Regions from separate parts of the Homo sapiens genome. Here region 1 is linked to region 2. A link means that fine-mapping ties the variant in region 2 to the expression of a gene that starts in the linked region. Tissue or cell type: testis. Region 2 holds a variant in brackets; the other region holds the start of a gene. All regions are shown on one strand. Distances are from middle to middle.

What was found. PIP is the estimated chance that this variant, and not a neighbour inherited with it, causes the effect.
Region 1: it holds the start of TBC1D30, and the variant in region 2 is fine-mapped to the expression of TBC1D30 in testis (GTEx, PIP 0.93).

The regions. Positions count from the first base shown.
Region 1 is chr12:64,823,431-64,826,050 of GRCh38, reverse strand. It overlaps TBC1D30 (TBC1 domain family member 30), which reads right to left and starts at 1,404. Exons shown (of 12, transcript NM_015279.2): 1 at 1,018-1,404. The coding sequence starts at 1,171. RefSeq lists an enhancer at 199-706 and a silencer at 1,345-1,584.
Region 2 is chr12:64,880,493-64,883,252 of GRCh38, reverse strand. It overlaps TBC1D30 (TBC1 domain family member 30), which reads right to left. Exons shown (of 12, transcript NM_015279.2): 12 at 2,220-2,760. Among named protein-coding and RNA genes, the nearest start is that of LINC02389, 1.9 kb to the left of the region's middle. The variant T/C (reference allele first, on the strand shown) is at 1,265.

The DNA of each region.
Region 1 (2,620 bases), 57 kb after region 2:
AATAAATACTACAGCCTCTGCAACTAGACACTTCCTAGGGGAGAACAACAAAGAAACCACGAGGTTGGGAAAGGCAGTGCCGCATCCCACCCTTTGGGACTCTGCAGCTCGATTCTCCTGCGGCTCTACAGCAGGTCCCCAAGGCGCTGGCGCTGGGGGGCGGGGGCCGGGGACCGTGAACCCGCCTGGAACGCAGCCGGTGCCACTCCAGGGAACAGGTGAGCGCCAAGCACCAGTGAGAGTACAGCCAACTCCCTCTGCAGCCACTCCTTGCCAGAAACCTCCGTGCCCAGGAGCCCGCGCTAGGGCCAGGCTCTTAAAATCCCGGGGAGGGATGCCGGGTGATGGAGCCGACACGGAGTTATGCAGTCTGGAGAAGCAGGGATGGGTAAACACAGGCTGACAGTGGGAAGGGCCTTGCCTAGCACGACCAGGCTCGTTCCTGGACCTCACCTATGAAAAGGATCTCCTGCTGCTCCCCACTCGCACTCACAAATTACAGGCTCCAGTTCGAGCTGACCCCGGCACTCACGCTGAAGGGACTCTTGGGAAAATAACACCCGATTTTGCCTTTGCAGCCACTGTCTTCCTCCTCCGACCTGCAGTGTCAAACCTGTGCCACTCTCCGCCCCCACACACCTCTCGCAAGGTCTGGCTTCCTGCGAGCCTGGAACACAATAGGTGGTGCGGCCTCTGAGGGCCCGGGCAGCCACCCGCACTTCCCCGCCACGCGGAGAAAGCCGAGCACACAGGCCGCAGGGTGGGGGTCCGCGGGGAGAGGGTGGAAGCAGCGGGTTCTCCGCGCCTGGGGTGGCCGCTGCCCCACCCAGGCCCCCGTCTGCCCTCTACCCTTCCAGACCAATCGCTCCCTGCAGGTGCCAACGCGGTGCCCCGCACCAGGTGGCACGCGGACTTTCCCCAGAGCTCCCCGGCCTAGACGGAGTCAGGCTAAGGCAGAAGCGCGGGCAGCCCCGGCGCTACTTTACAGCGCCCCATCTGCAGCCCTGGGGTCCTCACCCGGCTCCAGGGTGCACAGCAGCCGGGGCGCGGTCCGGGAAATGCAGCTGCGCTTCTTGAGCACATTGCTCAGGATGGTGCCCACGCCGCCGCCCTGCCGCTTCAGGCATCTCCCCCCGCGCCTCAGAGACCCGGTCAGCTTGTCCTGCCGCATCCGAGAGCGCCCCGGGCTCTGGCACGGCTACCGTCCGTCTCGGTCCCCGCTACCCCACTCGCTGAGCGGCTGAGCTCGCGGAGCTGGGTGAGTGTCTGCGGCTGACCGGCCCGTGGGAGCAGGGAGCGCACAGCCGGCTGGTGCTGGAGGGTCACGGGGACTTACGGGGCACCGCGGGAGCCGCCGAGCGCAGGGAAGCCAGCAGGCATCTGCAGTGCGGAGCCTGCAAGGCTGAGGCAGGAGATCGCTCGAGGCGGGGAGGGCGGGAGCGAGCGAGCGAGCGAGCGCGTGGGAGACGGAGGCGGCGTGCCCGCCCCCAATCCCGGCACCGCCGTGCGCAGGCGGGGCCGCCCCAGCTCCCCCGTGCCCAGAAGCGCCAGAGACAGGGAGCCAGTGGGCGCGTAACTGCGTTCGGGGACCAAAAGCAGAAACAGAGATGTCCGTGCTTCTCCCAAGATCTGGGAGGGAACAGAGGGAGCACCAAGGGGCGCCAGTCTCAGGGGCAGAACACCCGTAAGGGCAAGCATCCTCTCCCACTTCCGAGCAGTCTCAGAAGGGGCCATGACCCAACCGCAGGCGGCGAGGCACACGCTTCAGCCCGAATTGCGTTGAATTATTTCCTGGCAGATTAGAGAGGCGCGGAGAAAATGAAGGAAAAAAAAATTATTGTTTCTTTTAGAAAAATGGGCTTCCAGAAAAAAAGTGTTCTCTTTTCAAGCAGTATTAAAAAGTAATGTTCCTCATCTCTCCAGCCAGACTTCAGTAGTTCTGAACTATTGCCCATCATTATGGTTTAAAAAAAAAAAAGTCATTCTCAAACGGCAATATTCACCAATAGACTATTTACCATTAAAATGGATGAAAGAAAGGGTGTGGGGGGGGGATATAAAGATACTTGTGTTTGCTAATATTTATAAAAAGAAACACTAAATGGATAAACCAAAAACAAATTAGAAAACTTGTATAGGAGAAGGAACATCGTGGAGGAGACAAGAATGGAAAACTGAGTCCTCTCTTGATGTGCCTCCTGTAGTTTTGGCTCTGGAATAACACTATATTAATAATATTAACAAATTAAATTTTTAAAAAACCAGGATGATGGAACAGCATGCCTATAGTCCCAGCTACTTGGCAGGCTGAGGTGGGAAAATTGCTTAGCCCCAAGAGTTTGAGGCCAGCTTGGGCAACATAGCGAGACCCCATCTCTTAAAAAGACATAAAAATAAAAATAAAATTTGAAAATACATAAAATAGTCTGGGCACGGTGGCTCACACCTGTATTCCTAGCACTTTGGGAAGTCAAGGCAGGAGGATGTCTTGAAACTAGGAGTTCAAAGCTGCAGTGAGCTATGATTGCACCCCTGCATTCTAGCCTGAGCAACAGACCTAGTCCCTGACTATAAATGAATAAATTATTTTTAAATTGTAAAAGAAAACCCTAACAATTGA
Region 2 (2,760 bases):
CCTGAAAGCAGCCTGCTTTCTCTCTGTTTCTCAGCTCTGCTTGCTGAGTGTTAACTCTTCTCCAACAAGCTCTCCCCTCATGGTTACAAGAGAGCTGCCAGCAACAACTCCTGGGCTTTTTCCTTCCAGGTTAAATTCTGTTGCATATTCATTTATGGAGTTAATCACATAAGCTATATGTAACCCAATTTTCCCCAAACTTTAGCAACTTAGGACCAAATCCAGTAGAAATGAGTGAGTCTGCTTACGTGAGAGTTCAAAACAAGAGCCTAGGAATTGAGCTTCTTTTCCTGTGGCTCATCCATGGGTCAGACACCATGGTGAGGAGGAGGAAGAGTGCTGAGTGTCTGAGCTCAGGCCCTGTGCTCCCTCCAGGGCCATCACTGTCACCGGAAGTACATGGGCAGAGGTGGAGGAGGGCTGGCTCCCCAAGCAAAATTAAGGCAATGTTGCCAAAGCATAGTAAATTCTGGGCAGCAAAGACGGCAATTGTCCACAACAAACCCTATGAGATTGAAATTATTCTCATTGTACAGATGTGGAAATTGAAGGTCTCAGATGTTAAGTAACTTGCCCCAAATCATATAGTGGCATAGATTGGATTTTACCTCATTAATGTGTGCGATGAGACCAAAAGGATAGGTAGGTATCTGCCAGGCAGACTGAAGCAAGGAGGGTGCTCGAAGCAAGGATTTATGAATACACAGCAGTATGAGGGCATTAGCGGAGTGGGGGGCCTTCAGGGAACTTGGAGTTATGGGCAAAGTTATAAGACAGTGTAGCAAAGGAAAAGCTCAGGCTCTGGTGTCAGATAGATCCAGATGTTATTTGCCAGCTAAATAGGTTGCAGTGAGCAGGTTGCAGTGAGCTGAGATTGCGCTACTGCACTCCAGCCTGGGCGACAGAGCAAGACCCTGTCTCAAAAACAAAAAAAAATTACTAAGGGAGGTTTGTTTGTTTTTTTGCTTTGTTTCACATTTTAATATAGATTTCTGGACTCTCCAGGGATAGAGAGATTCCTAGGTTGAGGTATCAGGAAGTTTCCTCCCAGAAAACTGTTGATCACATAGGGGAATTCATCCACCTCCTTCCAACTGGCCAAGGATGTAACTGCTCACTTCACCTTCATCATCTGTAATACAGTGCCAGTAAGCTTCACAGAGCTCTTGGGAGGAATAAGTGAGATAGCACAAAGGAGCTAGTATAGTGCTGAGCTCAAGGAGCTCCACCAATGGTTGATATTATGGTGCTGGTGAGGATAGGT[T/C]GCACGAGGTAATGAATGGGGAAGCTGTGGGAAAATAAGACGGAAAATTAACCATGGGTCAAATCATGCTAAGATAAGGATTTTAGCTTTTACCCTCCAGAAATTGAAGAAAGATTTTGACCAGAGGGATGGCCCAATTAGTTTTTCATTTTAGAAAGATCATTCTGGCAGCAGTGTATAGCCAAGCAGCAGAGAGGTGGGGTGGGCAGGGGGAGGGTCCAAAATGGATGGCAGTGAGACCAGTTAGGAGACCATTACAATACAGTCATGTGCCACACCACGTTTCAGTCAACGATGGACCTCATGTGCTATGGTGGTCCTGTGTGATTGTAATACTGTATTTTTACTGTACCTTTTCTAATATGTTTAGATACACAATTACCATTGTGTTACAACTGACTGCAGTGTTCGGCACAGTAACTTGCTATACAGGTTTGTAGCCTAGGAGCAATAGGCTACACCATATAGCCCAGGTGTGTAGTAGGCTATACCATCTAGGTTTGTGTGAGCACACTCCGTGATATTCGCACAATGTTGAAATTACCTAACAATTTCCCCATCGTTACCCCCGTCATCAGGTGATATATGGCTATAGTTAACTTGTTCAGTGGTTGCTAAACTTAGTTCAACGTTCAAATTACTAAGGAAGGCCAGGCACAGTGGCTCACATCTGTAATCCTAGCACTTTGGGAGGCCAAGGTGGGCGGATTGCTTGAGGCCAGGAGTTCAAGACCAGCCTGGTGGACATGATGAAACCCCATCTCTACTAAAAATAGAAAAATTAGCCGGGAATAGTGGTGCACACTTGGTAGTCCCAGCTACTTGGGAGACTGAGGCAGGAGAATCACTTGAACATGGGAGGCGGAGGCTGCAGTGAGCCAAGATTGTGCCACTGCACCCCAGCCTCGACAACAGAGTGAGACCCTGTCTCAAAAAGAAAACAATTACTAAGGAGGTTTTTTTTTATTTTTTGCTTTGTTTCATGTTTTAATATAGATTCCTGGACTCTCCAGGGATAGGGAGATTCCTAGGCTGAGGTATCAGGAAGTTTCTTCCCAGAAAACTGTTGGTCCCATAGGAGAATTGATCCACCTCCTTCCCAGTGATCAGCATTGCCTAAAGGAAAACTAGAATTGTTATAGCAAGGATGTAAACACTAAGAAACAAGTGAACTTTCTGGTTTTTTAATGTTAAAACAACAACAACTCTTGAAGCCCCTGGGGCACAGGTTGGTGTAGCTAGATAAAGATTGCCTGGGATGGAAGGGATGGAGAGAATGGAATCAAGTGACACTTTGCAGGTCATTTGGTCTCACCAGAGCAAACGACCAGGAAGGAAGCAACCTTCAACGTGATGGTATTTGAAGGCGGGGCCATTGGGAGGTAATTAGGTTTAGATGACACCAGGAGGATGGGACCCTCATGATGAGGTTAGTGCCCTTATCAGAAGAGGAAGAGACCAAAACATACTCCCTTTCTCCATTGTGTGAGGACACA